Regions from separate parts of the Homo sapiens genome. Here region 1 is linked to region 2. Evidence: fine-mapped expression QTL. A gene starts in region 2. The other region holds a variant in brackets. All regions are shown on one strand. Distances are from middle to middle. Region 1 overlaps PPFIBP2 (PPFIB scaffold protein 2). Region 2 holds the start of PPFIBP2 (PPFIB scaffold protein 2).

What was found. PIP is the estimated chance that this variant, and not a neighbour inherited with it, causes the effect.
Region 1: its variant is fine-mapped to the expression of PPFIBP2 in whole blood (INTERVAL, PIP 0.98).

What each region holds. Positions count from the first base shown.
Region 1 is chr11:7,579,164-7,587,496 of GRCh38, reverse strand. The region is part of intron 3 of PPFIBP2 (PPFIB scaffold protein 2); the gene reads right to left. LOC105376535 (a long non-coding RNA gene) reads left to right here. Exons shown (of 4, transcript XR_007062579.1): 3 at 6,088-6,237. Among named protein-coding and RNA genes, the nearest start is that of PPFIBP2, 69 kb to the right of the region's middle. The variant T/A (reference allele first, on the strand shown) is at 4,149.
Region 2 is chr11:7,509,260-7,517,592 of GRCh38, reverse strand. It overlaps PPFIBP2 (PPFIB scaffold protein 2), which reads right to left and starts at 3,594. Exons shown (of 24, transcript NM_003621.5): 1 at 3,472-3,594. OLFML1 (olfactomedin like 1) reads right to left here. Exons shown (of 3, transcript NM_198474.4): 3 at 6,216-8,195. The coding sequence ends at 7,405. LOC124902806 (leucine-rich repeat extensin-like protein 5) reads left to right here. Exons shown (of 4, transcript XM_047428005.1): 2 at 2,988-3,475; 3 at 3,553-5,470. The coding sequence ends at 4,383. RefSeq lists enhancers at 964-1,013, 4,699-4,818 and a silencer at 3,499-4,028.

The DNA of each region.
Region 1 (8,333 bases), 70 kb before region 2:
TGCAACCAAAAGTTCTGGTTAATACATTTGTCTCAAAAGGTGATCAACTGACTAAAATTTACTCCTTTGGAAACAGACTTGTAGGAAAGAATTCCTGCTATTTGGATATAGTTCTGAATTGCAAAGGAATTCTGCCACTATTGCTTGATTTGCTTAAAGTGGCAATTTTTAAGACAGGGCTGTCAGTCCTAAGCCAACTATAGTTCAAACCAGGATTATCATCAGGGGCTAATTGAGATCTACTTTGTGGCACAGGGAGTGTCTGTGTGGGATGTACTAGGATAAAAAGGGCACTCAGTGTCCTTTGTGTGTGGAATAGATGGCTTTCTATCCACCACCTGTTTGCTTCCATTCTTATTTCCCATGTAGAGCAAAAAGGTTAAGACAGGGAATGAATACAAGATGCAACAGGCCCATGGGCATCAACCGGGGTTGGTGGAGGTGGGGAGCAGGATGTGTGATATGAAAAAGTAAGTTCAAACAAAACAAGAAATAAACAGGAGCTAAAGTCTAAAAGATATTATCAGAAAATGAATCAGAAAATGAATAAATGAAGGGTAAATAACAGAAATAGATCTAACAACTGTTTAAGAAGTTATGTCGAAAGAATTACATGTCAGACACAGCTGTACAAATGCCAGGTCTGGGCGCTGGGAGGCTGAGAGCTCTGGGTTCCCTGTTCCCCTCATTTGGCCCAGCTGAACTTCAAGTCAGGGGATCCCTGGGGACTTTCTTGTGGTGCTTCCATATTCATTTACAGAATTCCTATTGCATCCTCCTCCCCAAGGGACCACCTTCTCTGCAGAAAGAGGACAAACCAAGAATAATTAGGAGGCTGGGGCTGCACCTAACCATGTGTAATCTCAAGTAGGTTACCTCATCTCAGGCTTTCCATCCTTTCAATAGAAAAAATCATGCTTCACGGAGCAACAGAAAGGGTCAAGTTAGGTCAGCATACCTGAAAACGTGTGGCACTAAAACTACAGAGTGCTCTTTATAGTAGGGTGCTCTAAAAATTCCTGTGTGATATAAACAGTTTTTGAATAATCATAGGAATATGGAAATGATTTTTAAATTATAATTTAACAAATGAATTTAGCTAACTTATAAATGATTTAGCTTTGTTTAATCTAAAAGACCAACATTCAGTTAGAAGCATGAGTTAGAAGGCATCATTTAATGCCTTCTACAAAAAGTTTTAATTAATTCACTCTTTTTGTGTAAGAGAACAACAGGGGCAATATTTCTGATCAGGATGCCTAAGAAATATCTATGAAGATCTGTACAAACAACCCAAGGGAACAATAACCAAAATACTTTCAGGCTTGAAATGAAAAAACAAAACAAAAAGAAAGCCTCTGTGACAGTGACAACGCAGAACCCACCATTAGCTAATAGCCCTGGGATCATGTCTTTGGGCCACATTGCCAAAGATGAGTTCACTTCTCCACTATCCCTGAACAAGTGCTCACATTTTTGAGTCATACATTCATGGCCACATATTTTTCTTTCGTACAAGTGTTTTATTGTGTACTCTAAGTATTATGTGCTACATACATGTTTATAATGAGTACACTGGGAATTTTTATAGCTAGTAATAACCAATCATAAACACTTGGGTTTTTATTTCTGTTCCAATCTAGAGGTTAGTTCAAATTTGGGTTAAACATGAACTTTTCAGCCAAGTTAACCCCCAGCGGCCTCCTCAAAGACATCACCCTCTGACTGCAGTGGCTGTTCAGATCTATGACAATGCTCTCTCCTGGCCTAGCCCTTCCACTGTAGCTTGGCCAAGGGATAGCCATGTTAGTCTCTCCTTGGAGCTCTAGACAGGGTGAGTGCTTGATGCCATGGCTGGGGTCCTGCAGATTTGTGGTGGGCAGCATGACTGCTTTATGGCCTGGCTGGCCATTTGCAAGGAGAACACACTCTTCACATGTGCTCTGGTACACCTCAGGGATGCTGGATGAGGGCAGTTCTGTAGCACTCCCCAACTGGCATGACCCAGGAGACTTCCTGCTGGCACTGTACTTCATTGAACTAGGGGAAGGAGTTGGTTCCAGAGTAGTCAAATGGGGCAAGGGCTAGATCACAACAGGGGTGTCATTGGTATACAAGTAAGGAGTGTGGGAAAACCTAAAACAGTCGGCTCCCCAGTGTGACAGCTCTAGCATCATGTTGGTTTTTGAAGCCAACAGTTGCTTCTCAGAGCTCTTGCCTTGGGATCCTCAAAATGCATCTGCCTTCCTTTTTTTGATATCAATAGTTGTCATCTTGGCCAGGTAAAGAGTTACATTTCCTTCAGTGCTTCTAATAAGCTATAAATTCCAGTGCCTTCAGGATCTTGGCCACAGTACATACACTGTCCCAACTGGTCAGAGCATGTTAAATTATATGATGGCTCTTTGCCTGTAAATACGCTGAGATTTTGAACACAGCACGTTGGGTAAGCCTTGTCCTGGATAAGCCTTAAAATGGTTCTTCCTTATTTAGCCATTTAGATGACATGTATTTTTAGCTGAATAAGAAAACAAAAGAAAATGTGTAGTGTTTCCAGGCTGCCTAGTCAAGAGGATCTTATCAAAATCCAGAAAACTAGTTACAAGTGAACCATAGCTGCCAGGCACAGGGCATCAGGGGAGATATCAAAGTTACTAAGGCTATATCTTAAGCTCAGAAGCACCACTCACATGCAACCCCTTTTAGAAACTTAGAAGACATAAACCTTAAAAGTAAGGGGACCAAAATAAATAAATAAACAAAAATGATTGGATCACAAAAGCTACAGTCAATTCCTGTTACAGGACTCTGGTTACCCAACACCAAGGGAACCCAGTAGTATGAGTGTAGGCAGGTTCTTATAAAAAAGAAAACTTCCCCTAGATTTTTTTATTAAGGAGTTTTAGGGCTTTCTGGCATTTATTATAAACCTGAGTATTCCCAGGACCAGTTCTGCTTTTTCTAGGTGAAGAACGGTCAAGCCAATCTACCATCTTTGTCACAGTGTTAAAGAAATTTCTTCCAAATGCAATGTGAATAGAGTGCAGTCAGATCCTCGGCTACCAGGAGTCCAACAAGAGAAAGCCTATCCTGACCTTGACCCTTATTCCCTCCTCCCCTCAATTATATATAAGGGGAGGTTAAGTATTGCTGATGAGGCTATCATCCAATGATCTAAATGTCCTCTTTTAAGGAAGAACAAAGCAGAGTTCATAAACAGCAAATAAATAGCTTCTTGGTTGACCAATGTTCACATCATCACACGTCATGAATGTATTTATGAAATGACTTGAATAATCCTGAGCACCCACTAGGTGCCACTTTCTGTGCTAAACAATGATTTAGTCCCTGCCCTTAAAAAGCTCTGTAGTATTACAGGGAATAAGGACAGAAGGAAAAAAGAAATCAACCTTTGCAGCAGGATGTAATAAGTACTATCATAAAGAGTTGTATGCACATGAATGGCAGGGGCATAGAGGAGAGACAAAAACATTTCACCTTCAAAAGAGAGAAGAGGCTTTACAGTGGAGGCACCATTTGAATGATTGAGTCTGAAGGCTTTAAAGGAATACCCCTAGGAGAATGTGAGAACAGCAGCTTTGGAAATAGCCTTCCCAATACAGACATGCTACCCATGAAGCTATGACAATCACTACCCTTCAGATATTCTGGTCTTCCAGAACTAACATAGCAAACACAGGACACCCTGAAGATAAACTGGCCATCAGCTCTCCAACCAAGGGGCTGGGATGAAGCTCCTAACTGATCTTCCTGGGGAGCTAGATTTGTAGAGAAACACATTTACCAAGATTTTTTTTTTCCCCAAAATTATAACCTTGGCTGAGCTTGGTCACTGCTAAATTCTCTTTATCTGGTAGCTGGACACATAAAAAGCTTACAGCACTGGGCTGCAGAAATAGCATTTGTATGTGTGCTGGTATCCTGTAATGAGAGGATGTGAAAGCCAGGAGGAGAGTAAAAAGAGAAGACTCTTTGAAGACTGTCCTCACCTTGCCAACTCCAATAGATGCACTGAGTCATTATTACTGAAAACACCTTCAGAGACAGTGCAGCAGGACTGGGTGCTACAGTTAGGGTGGAGTGGGCGCTGTGACTGTCTTAGCTCCCCTGGAGGCTTTAGAGCCTGG[T/A]GTCTCTTCGGCATGAAAGATCCAAAGTTTGAGAACACAGAATTAGGCAAGAGCCAAAGTAAGGAGCTGCTCCTCGGGTCACAAGAATGCCATTAATCCTACAAGATTTCCAAATGGAAATGAATACAAAGGAAAATGTATGGGGAAGATTGCCTGGGAACTAGAGGCAGCAAAAATAACATTACAGAAGGAATTTAAAAGATGACTATAGGAACAAAGTTAGTGCTCACTGGCTTCAGGAGTGACCAGGAGGGAGTAGAGATGAACGAGCAGGCTAACAACTCACCAAGAATCTTAACAGTGAAAGGAAGGTAAGTTATAAGGCAGCATGAAGAGACAAGCACAGGGTCAAAGATAGTTTTGATTTGTTTTTTCCCTGAGAATTGAGGAGAAGCATTTTCCACCAAGGGCAAGGGACAGATAGGCAGGGAGGAGCTGAGAGAAGAAACAATCAGAGCAACAAGAGGAGCTGGAACAGGATTGGGTCAAGGACAGGATACTGGGATAGCCTTGGCTGAGAGAAGGGACTCCTGGCCCATGAAACAGGATGCTGAAATACAGTTACATTTTGCGGTGAAAGGGAGGGAGGGTGAAGAGACTCATCTCAGTTTGGCTGGTTTTTTTTTTTTTTTCCTATGACATTGGTAGTGACATCAGTTGAAAGGGGAGTATAAGGTTGAAGACTAATGGAAAAGTGTGAAAGAGCTGCTATGGAGGAAGGGACAGAGAAAAGCAGGGATGAGTCAAAGGATCCCTAAGTGCTGCTGCCAGTCCACAAAACCAACAATGGCTGTGCTGCTCTGTAGTGCCCACAAGTTGTTCAGCAAATGACCCTGGTGTGATGCCAGTTTGTTAAATCCCACTGGGTAAAAGAGGCCTCTCTTCAAGGAGCTGGCAGGAGTTACAGGTGCTGGATGTCAGAGATGGCAGAATTCTAGCTTCTAAATTATACCAGGAAACATAATGTACAGGCATCTCGGGTGTGTTGGCCAGAAATAGGAGGTATCATAGGAAATTGAGGAAGCTAGTGCCCTTGGGTGACCATATCCACTGTTGCCTTTCCCATAGGATTGAAAAACCTCTCTTTTCAGAATCAAGGTTGGGTACCTGGCTCCCGAGTAACCAGAGGTTGTCAGTTCTGATCGATGTCATCCTCCCCATAACTCTAACACTTATAAAGTGCTTCCTAAGCACTTAACATACATTGAATTGGCTGGGCACGGTGGCTCACGCCTGTAATCCCAGCACTTTGGGAGGCTGAGGCGGGCGCATCATCTGAGATCAGGAGTTCGAGACCAGACTGGCTAACATGGCAAAACCCCATCTCTACTAAAAATACAAAAAATTAGCTGGGCATGGCGGTGTATGCCTGTAATCCCAGCTACTCGGGAGGCTGAGGCAGGAGAATCGCTTGAAGCTAGGAGAAGGAGGTTGAAGTGAGCCAAGATTGTGCCACTGCACTCCAGCCTGGGTGACAGACCTAGACTCTGTCTCAAAAAAAAAAAAATCTATCTATCTATCTATCTATAGAATTGTTTATCCATATATATAATCAAGGAAATTGAATTCTAGGAAGGTTAAATAAATTGCCCAAGTCTACACAGAGGTGAGATATGAGCCCAAGGAATCTAGATCCAGGATCCATGCTCTTAACTAGTAGGAACAGCCTTCACAGAAGCTGCTGCCTATTTCTGTAACTTTCACTGCAGTCCAACATGAATGCAAGGCAAGTCAGTGTCTGGAGTGAGGAGACCTCCGTGTCTGCCTTTGCAGCTCTTCTGGCCCAAGTGGCCAGGCTACTAGATCAACCATTTGAGCACCAGATGACACAGAATAAAGTCTCACATTAGCAGCTTGAGTTAATTCCACTTTTTACTGCAGAACCTGAGCCAACTGCATGGGGGACCTGTAGTGATTCCATTTTCTTTGTGACCTACAGTTGGAATTTGCTTAAGCACTGAGAGTGCTGGAAGCCAGGAAGCAGTGTGAAGATGCTGACAGTCTGGGATTTCTGTTCCTGGGAAAATGAACTCTTGCCGAAAGAGCAGTGGGTGGGTCCCACAGACCCTGCTCGGAGCTATTTTTAGAGGTGTGTTCATGGTTGTGTGGGTTGGATCCACTGGACTCAATGTAGAACAGGTGTGAGCTGTTTGTGACTGAGTCCCTCTGGATACTTGTGGCAAGAGACTACCTTATCCCTAGGCTTTGTCTGTTAGGAGAATGAACTAGAGCATCAGCCCTGATCAGCCTTCACTCAGCAACCACAGCCAAGCTGGCCAGATCCAGCAGCCAATGAGGCCTCTGGTCACCTATGGTGGCCCAGGTTGCAGCTGCCTTTTCTAGGTCTTCAATATGCTTGGTTTGAGACCTTGATCTGGAGTATGGGAAGGGTCATAAAGCTGAAGCACTGAATGGCCTGAGAGGCAATTCTAGGAGAGAACCTGGTTCCATCTGTTCCTCTTTCAACTTCTCCCTTCCTGATAATCACCAATAGCAGTTAATAGCAAGCATGTTATTGAGTATTTCCTACATGCATGATACTGCACTAATCGTACTATCTTACTGAGTCCTCATAAAGCCTGTATGTGGTAGGTACTATTATCTCCCTTATTTTATAGTTAAAGAAATCCAGACTTTTGAGATAATTTACCTTGGATCACACAGCTGGTAAACGTGGCAATGCCAGGATTCTAATTCAGGCCTCACTCCAGACTCCATGTTCTTAACTGTAATATTAATAGTATATACTATCCCATCCCACACAGGCCCTGGAGCAAGATTTCTTTTCTGAGCAAATATTTCCCCTCCAGCTCCATGCCTCTCTGAACATAAGTATCTCCCCTTTGCCCTGAGACACCACCACCTTGGACTGCTCAAAGGGCAAGGGCTCCTGCTCTGGCACCAGGAACCTCTTCTTCCAGAATCTATGCCCTCTGTAAAGGAGAATGAAGACGATAGTGTTTCTACCTTCAAAAGCATGAGTTCAGAGAAACCAGCTCTCCACACCACCTCAGCTGAAGCACAGGAGAAAGGGTGGGTGAGCCATGCAGATGGGAAGTGCTGCAGACCTGGGCTACAGGAGGTGGGGAGGGAGGGCCAGCAGAGGTTTCCTGGGAAAAGACAGCCTGGATGGAGTCAGTTGAAGTGGATGAGAGTTAGAGAGGAGGTGGTCATCTGTGGTAAAAGCTCAGAAAAGGGAAGAAATACACTTGGGAGCTCATCAGGGTAGATATAAAAGATAAAACTAAAAAGGTAAGTTGAGGTTGGGCTGCTAATGGTCTCAAAGGCCAAGCAAGCCGAAGGGCCTGATTTTTCTTCCAGATTAAGGGTGAGTCCAGGGGGGCTCATCACTGGGGTCACAGGACGAAAGGGAATTTGTTTTTTTTGTTTTTTTTTTTAAGAAGATTTTAAAAATCTGGCAGTAGTGTTTAGGGTAGAGAATAGTGAAAATACTCTTATCACACTGCCAATGACATGTCTACACTTTGAGTTTTGCTTTTGTAAAATGCTCTTTAAAATTCTAAAAGTAGAAGAAAAATATCTGTTTTGCTATGAGTCATCCTGGGGGTTTCTAAAGTCTCCTTGCTTAAAGTTTCCCTAAGCAAACTTCCAACTGTCCACAGGAGCCAGCATACCCTGGGTCTTGGGACAAGAAGGGCCTTCTTACATTGCATCACATGCAAAATTAGTTCCTCCACACACATAACTTCTCCTGTAGCAGGCAGAGTTACAGTATCTGCCCCAGGGGCTGGGACAAGGCTCTGACAATCCCAGGCACATGTTGGCTGAAAGGATTTCTTGATTAAAAGCTTCATTTGGGATACAGGGAAAGAAGGACCAAGTGATGGTCAGTGCATTTCTTACATATTTCCTTTCAGTATCTCCCCAGTGGGGCTTAAAAAAAAAACCTAAGATGATGCAAACCTTTGCCAAAACGTCTGGTCATCTCAGCATGCTTTCTGGTGACTGTGATGCCCTAGGGGCTGGGCACAGACAGGATTTCTGCTGGGTTCTAAAGCAATAATTTTATACATATTTGGCAGAGAAAATGAATAAAGAGAACTAGACTGGGAGATAGAGAACAGGGTTCAAGACCAGGCTGCACCACTAATAGCTATGACACTAATACCATGAGGTTCTTAGCCCCTCTTGGGCTTTGTTAAATGAGGGGTTTGTACTATCCCA
Region 2 (8,333 bases):
TTTTTCACCCCAAACCTGGTCTCATTCCCAACTCTGCTCCTAGGCAGGGACATCCTTTCAAAACTCCACACTACTCTCCACTTCCACATTCCCCGTAGTACCCAACGCATCAACCCAGACCCCTCCGAGGCTTCTAGCTTTCTTCTGCTCCTCCAACCTCCCACCCTAAAACATGCAACCTTTCCTTACCCCTATCTGTAGTTAACCCCGCTGTTAGGGATATTTCCACACCCTCAGTTGCAAAACACCACACCCCTGTCCACATTACCCTTAAAGACCCCACACTATTGAAGCCAATCTGCTCCTCCCAGGCACCACCTCCCAAAAAGCTGAACTCATCACCCTCACTCGAGCTCTCACTCTAGCAGCCGGACAACAGTTCTCTAATTTAGGAGGATTTAAAACCCTGGTAGGGACAGTAATCTTCATCACTTTTTCTCCCCTGTGTTATCCCACTAATAATAAAAGCCACTAAAACTCTTATTGAAACTACAGTTAGCCACCAGACAATTCAGACTATGCTCCTGCTACAACGACACGATGGATACCAACACATCTCTCAAGAATACCCTAAAAATTAAGTTTTTCTTTTTCCAAGGAGCCCACACCACCCCTAAGTCACGCCTGAAGTAGTTATTGAGAAAGTCACCCCTTTTCCCTTTTTACTATAACCAAATAGACAGGAATGAAAGATTCTCCCCGGGGTCTGAAAGCTTGAAGAGATGAGTAACTCCTCCCTTCTCAGGCCCAGTCCCAAGGTGCAAGGCCAGTTGCGCCAGCAGTGTGCATCAGCAAGACAGCAGAAGCAGGAAGACAGCCGGCCAGAAGACACCTACCCTGGCTGGAAGACACGTACCCCTTGAAGACAGAGAGAGGGGCCGTCTGGGTACTGTGCAGAAGTTACATCAGACTGAGACACTTCTTGTTTACAGGAAACTATAAAACCCCTGCCTCGTCCTCACTTGGTGCTGACGCCATTTTAGGCCTCAGCCCACCTGCACCCAGGCGCTCGTTAAAACAGCACGTTGCCCCACACCGCCTCATGTTGTCTGTTGGCAGGCTCTCGGGGTTCGAACCAATACAAGAACCTTTCATAAACTTTACCTTAAACATTACAGTCTAAAGGCCATACCATTCCTCAGGCCCAAAGCTGAATCTTCCCAGCATTGTTTCTCCCTCCTCACTTCTCATTGCATCTAATCAGTCTAGAGACTGTCCCATTCCCTAGTCCTCTGTCCTACAGATTCTATCTCTCCGAAGTCTCCCTACCTGTCCCCACCTCATCACTCTCTCAGGCCCAAAATAAGGCCTCATCCCTTTGACCCTGGATCAGCCTCCCGGTTTCCTATCCGGCCTCGCCGCCCCCACTGTCTTTTTCCCTTGGAGTTTGCTTCCCACCACACTCCCAGAACTTTGCCATTGCAGCAGTTGCCTTCGGGTTTGTCAACAGAATCACCTGGGGGAACTTGGTAAAAACATCCCAGACTACTTAATCTGAACGTTTTACAAAACTCCCCAGGCGATTATGAGGCATAGCCAGGTTTGCAAACTGCTACTCTAAATCCTTGCTACACATAGGGAAATGATCAGCAAGCTCCTGGGAATCTGTTAGAAACACAGAATGTCAAGTCCCACCCCTGACCTATGGAATCATAATTTGCATTTGAACAAGATCCCCACAGGATTCTCAACTTTGAGAAGCTCTGCTCTACAGTGTTGTCAGACCATGCACTCCACAAATATTTACTGGATTTTCTCTGTATCAGGCTAGGAATTGGGAGGGTCAAGGACCAAGGTCTTTGACTTTGAGAAGTTCACAGAACCATCAGTCAGTCCCCTGCTGTGCCTTCAGACCAAGTCCAGACTTCTGTACTGGACAGCTGGGACTATTTTCCAGCCTTGTCACCAGCTTTCCTGACTAGCACTTGACATAAGAGCCAAGCTGGACCACTGGCCACTTCTCATGGTGAGTCCATGCCTGCCTGCCCACACAGTTGTCACAGCCCAGGCCACACTCTACCCTTCTCTGCCTCAAAAACCCCAGGAGGGATCCTTTGAGGTCCATCACATCACCCTTTCTTAAAATTATCCCAGATTTCCCTGCTCAGATGAAAGACAGGAATTCCCATAACTTTGTTCCTACCGCCTTCATGTCATTGATCTCATTCCACTTACTCTTTTAAAGTCAAAGCGCATCTCCCTTAGCTACCCAGTAAAGAAGGCATCATGGTAAGCAGCTTATCTCTCCAGTAGCAATAAGCTAACAACTGTCACATCACCAAATCTTAAAATAGTATTACTAATAATTGAAATATGTTAAATAAAACATGGATAAATGCAATCAGTGAAAACCTCATCAATCATCCCCATCTCCCACTTCAAATTTATTTAGCTATGAATTTAAGCAAAGTACAAATGGGTTGCCTCTCTTAAGCCAAAGAGAAATAATTTCTAAATTAGATAACACTTACAGCTTTCCATACACCTATAATAATGAAAGACTGAATATGCTGAAGATGAATTATGTCGAAAACCAACTACTTTTCTGTAGTTGACCATTTAACTTCACATAATACACTACAAATTTGAAAACACTTCAGATTTGTATTACAATCAATTAAGGAGGGGTTGAGAAAGGAGAGAGACGAAGAGAAAGACAGGAAGTAGACCAAAATATAGAAAAGGGACACGGATCTATACCAAATATCTGGCTGCTCTAAAAGTAAAAATATAATTAGATTCGTTTTTTAAGAAGATTAAACACTGGCAAGAATGCCTGTCTTAATCCTATCCAAACGCTGGAAGTTCTGTTCTCTTGTTACATAATCTTATTTTCATCCGAGGAAAAACTGCGGGTCTGGAATCTGATGTGATGAGGTGAGGAGGGAGCCCACTTTTAAATAGGACCGTCCCCATCCTGCAGTCTACTGGGACGCGGCGGCTTTAGATTTTAAAAAGTGTGCTGTATTTTTGCACTTACACTACAGAACTGGCTTTAGCCGAGGCCCTGCATCTAGACACACGCTGTGTCCACCAGAGAATTGCCTGGGCTGACAGACCTAAAGCTTCCGCAACCTCCTTAGGCTCCCTAGTCCACGCCGCTGCTCCCCGGGCTGAGCAGGGCTGGGACGCGCCGCACAGAACTCAGGGACCCCACCTCCCTGCGCATCTCCAGGGCCACGCTGGCACCTGCAGGAGTGCGGACTGTCCGCGGATCCCAGGCAGGGTTGGGTGGAGATTCGCAGCCAACCCACAGGAGTTCTGCCCTCCTCCCAGGCTTCTGGCCAGTGGAGTTGGAGAAGGGTCCCCGTCCTCGAGCCTGGGACACGCTCCGGGGCTCACAGAGACACTGACCCACACGTCCCCGTGGTTCGTAGCTCTGGGGGCGCTCCACTCCCTAGGTAATGCTCCCGACGGGGATCCCAACCCCGACCGCGCGGCAAGCCCGGGGTGTGGGGAGAGCCCACTGACCTGGGTACGGGGCCGAGGCTCCTCTCCGGGCGGCTCAGGTGTGCGGGCCGCTCCCGTGTCCCTCCCACCTTCAAACATGAGAGCCCAGAAGCGAGCGACGGGCCACTGGCCCACCGACCAACTGCCGGACCAAGCGCCCGACCAACCAGCGGACCGACCGCAGCGGCCGGGGCCGGCGCCCACGTGACGGGGCGGGGACCTGCGGAAGGCTCTTCCCGGAGCGCCGCGCCCCCACCCCGGGACCTGCCACAGGGACCACCCCCTTGGGCACCCGCTCCCTCTCGGGCACCGAAGAAGCCTGCTGGGACCCGTCCACCAGGGTTCCTGTTCCCGGGGGACCGGCCTGGTCAGCCCCGCCCCTTCGAACCTGCCTCGTCCCCACCCCCTGGGCCGCGCGTCCGGGCCCCAGCCCCGCCTCTCTCGGCGGACCGCGCCCCCTTCCGGGAGCCCCGCCCCGTTCGCCGCGCCTCCTCCTCCGCACAGCTCCGGTTGCGGGGAGGCCCGGGTGGGTACCCGGCGCTCCGGCTCCCAGTCTCCTGGGCTTCTCCAGTCCTTCAGCGCCGTTCTCCGGTCACAGGGAATGAAAGCGAGGAAGAAGGAAACGGTGTCGAGAATTGCGAAGAGAGAAAGCATAGAAAACCCACATTAGAGGCACTCCCAGAGCAGAAACCCTTCGGAGCATCCCGACTTCCTCGGCCCGCGTGCAATCCAGGCAAAATTGAGGTTGTCTCTGAGCCGCCCTCCCTAAGCAGGTCGGAAAGCCCCCGAATCATCCCAGGTCCCGCCGCGCTGCACTCGCAACCTGGGGTGGAGGTCCCTCTAGTGGTTGGCACCAAACAAAAGTTCTGTCTTATGAAGAGCCGAGGTCAGGAAGCATTTCCCTGTGCCCAGCGCCAAGGTCTGGGACCTTAGGTCCAAGAAAAGCGTTGGCAATGTCTGACCACAGGAATGGGTTCTCGAACTGGGGAGGACTGAAGCTGGAGATCTGGTCCAGCCCCTACCTCCAGCGTGTGGCCTGAACCCGTTTTGGTTGTACTGCTATGTTGTGGCCCTGCCCAGGCCTCCAAGGACTGGCTGCTGTTAAGCTGTTTAAAATCCCTGTAGGCCTCAGATGGCAGCGACACCAGGGACTCGGCATAGTCCCCAGCTCTGGCAGGAGTCACCACAGCCCTAGCCTTTAGTTCTCTACAGGCTGGAGTGTCGACAAACTCCACAGGACACAACTTTTTCAAACCAAATTTACCCTCGCGGTCTGAAATGACCAGTAGGCCCAGGAGAATTTTACATGTGAACAGAACCTAACCCACCCTGGCAAATATGAGACGTGTGGTCACTGCGGGAACCTGGCCAGCAGCAGACCAAAGCACAGCCAGCAGGGGAAGGCTGGGGCCCGCAAGAGTTGTGTTACAACAGGACACCCTTCAGTTCTCTTTCACTTCCTTAAAATAGCAGCAGAGCGACTTTTGTAGACGCAGGCTGCCACAGTTCACACAAGGTCATGGCTGTTTCCGAATCCCACCCTTTATTGCCCTAGCGGAGCCACTCCCCTTACCTCCGCCCCCAGAAACTGCTAGCCTGTTCTTAAATTGATACAGTTACCTTTTTAAATGTTCTAAGTCACCGGCTCTGGAGCTTCTTTGCACTTTGGAACCAACTTGCGGGAAGGAACTTTAAAAATACTGATATCTCGATCCATCCCCAGAGGTTCTGATTTAATGGTCTTGGGGATATGGCCACGGCATGAGGACTGTTAAAACTCCGCAGGTGATTCTTATGTGCAACAAAGTTTAAGAACCACTGATGTAGGCCATGTCGATGTCAGTCTTCACTTAAATCCAACAAGACCCCAGAGCTAAAACGTTCACCTGAAAGAAACCCCATTCCCAGGCCTGCATACTGACCTGCGCTGGCTCACAAGAAGCAAAGTGGTCCCTTAACAGGGGCTTCCTGGAGAAAATGTCTTGACCTAAAAGAGTGATTCGAGCTGCAGGGATTTAAGGTAGGTACCAAGGTGAGTTGTTTGGGGCAGATGTGCCCTGCAGAGCTGTCAATCAAATCATATCCCAGGTGGAATCTAGACAGCACATTTCAGGCAACCTCCCCTCTGTGCCTCCAAAGGAACTATGGTTGCAGGACTCACTCCTATTGATAAATCTACCCCACTATCCTCTGTGAGGCAGCCCACATTCCTTCTATCTGTGAAATAGGTAGGTAATAGGGCAGGTAATATCACATTTATTTATTCATACCTGTCTCATTCCACAAAGGATTTGGCCTCTCTGTACCATTCTGTTAGAACTGTGGGTAATTACACTGTATCCATGGGTTGAGTAATTCCCTTCTGCCAAATATCTACTCAAATGCTATGGAAAAAAACATTTTCTCTTCACTGCCTATGGTCCCAGCCTGGGCTTGGCAAAGACAGGAAAACAGCTGCAAGCACACAAAGCAAACCTTCTCATGTGACCAACCTGGAAAGACAGAGGCTTCAGCACGTGACACAGACTGGCACCACAGCCTGCACTTGTGACTCGAACTTAGCTGAATTGGACAAACACGTGGGAAACACTGAGGAAGCCCCTGTCAAGAGGCATGCTGCCCTCGGTGCCACAGGGCATGCCTGCTGTGGCAGAGTCGCTTGCCTGCTGTATGGCTTCTGTCCAGATTCCAGAATATTTACCAGGGCCTCAGTGTGTTGGGAATCATTCACAGTAAACCTAACACAAGCAGCACTCCCAGAAAGCTTTTGTGCTTAGGGTATGTGGGCAAATATAACCTGATGAGGTTATTTGCTCAGTGTCACTTTTATTGAATTTAAAGCAGAAAGAGAGAAACAGAGGACAGCAAGACAAGAGGAGGCTAGAGTTGGGGTCCTCACCCTTAGACTGGTTTTCTGGAGGAATTATCATTTGAAAGGCCTATTGAAAGGTCTTGTGCAGACATGAAAACTGGCTAAAGGGACAGACTATTATTTTTAGGCTGAAACGATGAACGCATTGACTATAAGAGTAGGTGAACAAACATACGTATTTGATGCTTCCTTGGGCAATGGAAAAACTATGGGATTTGTAGTATTTTCTAGCTGTATCTTTCACTTTGTAATTGTGTTACTCACCTAAACTCTAGAATGACAGCTGTAAAGACTTGTGCATGTTTCACAAAGGTGAAACGAGAATTAAATGATGTGCAAACACTCCACACCTGGAAAGCGATATTCAAATGTTAATATTTTCACTTTATTATTACATCTACCAAGCTTAGTGGAAGGACAGGGCTAGGGGAAATAGAGGTTAAACCTCAATAAGAAATAGTATTTTAAGCCAGGTGTGGTGGCACATGCCTGTAATCCCAGGTACTTAGGAGGCTGAGGCAGGAGGATCTCTTGAGCTCTGGAGTTTGAGACCAGCCTGGGCAACATAGTGAGACCTTGTCTCAAAAAAAAGAAAAGAAAAGAAAGAAATATTAATAGTATTTTAGTTGGGCAGTGAAAATGGGAGAATATCAATAGACATTTGAAAAAGAGGGAAGAGCTTCAGCAAAGGCCAGGGGAGAGAAAAGCCAGTGGTGAATATTAGGGGCTGGCATACAACTCTAATTGTGGGAGGGAAGATGGCAGAGTTACAGTAAATGCTGGGGAGCAGTAAAACAAAAGGCTTGAAGTAGGCTGTATCAGAATGTGGTCATCCTTGAGAGCCAGGAGGTTTGGGGGAGTAATGGACATTGTTGAAACTTTCCTGATGATATGCTCTCATCTAAGCTCTTGGAAGATACCTAAGGCAGTGACATTTGGGAAAGGAGGCATACGTATTTCCACTTCTACACACTCTTCCTGTGTGTGATTAGAGGGATACTATATTGTGAAGGGGCTATAGCCTCACTGTCCTGTAGAACAGCTGCCAAAGCCACAGTGCTCTTTCTCACAGCTGTAATGCATTACTTCAGAGGCAGCTTTCTCTTTGTCTGGAGTTTGTAAATGATCTGGTTTCCTTCATTCCAGGCATAGAGCTGCTTATCTCTGGGGTTGTAATGGATCATGGAGTGACTTCTTGGTCTCTTGGGGAAGAACAAGTTGGGCAAGTCCTCCTCACTGATAGTGCCCAGTGGATCATAGATGCAGGTGATGCGATGAGGGCCCTGGCCCCCAGTACTGTAGACCACATAGAGAACCCCACACAAGAGGAATGAGGCTTCAGCATCCTGGCTTCTGCATGGGGTATCCCATGAATGCTCCACTCCCAGTGTGCCCGGCTCAATCTTTGTGAGAACCAAATGGCTATGGGTGCCTGGCCCAGAGTGGATGGCCCAGAGCCCATGCTCATCCACAGCCAGGTCAATGTAAGTTGAGGGGGAGTGCTGGTAAACCAATGCTCGGCCTACCCCTCCTGGGAGCAGCATTCGATCTTCCACAGTCCTCTTCTGCAGGTTATATTTGATTATCTCATTAGAAGTTGCTTGGTTATGAAAAAATAGAAAACCTTTGTAGATCACTTGGCCTGTTCCCTGCCAGGAAAGTGTTAGGATTTGCTTCCGGGGAGCTGGCTTGGTGTTATCCTCCATGAATGCCCGTATGTTTGCAAATTCCCAAACAGTGTTGTTTCTGGATCCAATTAATAAGTACACCTTTGGAGAGTTATAGACAGCATCTTTCATCCAAGAGCCATGTGTGTCCATCATCTTCTTCACTATTTTCAAAGACTTTATGCCCATCAGCATGTTGTCACAGCCTGGCCAAACAGGAGAAAAAGGAGAGATTACTTTATAAACATGAGCTGTCTGCTTTCTGGAAGGCTCCCCATGCTTGGTAAATCTTGTTTCCTTTCAGGTCTAATACTGATGGGGAATATTTTCAGTTCTACTGTGAC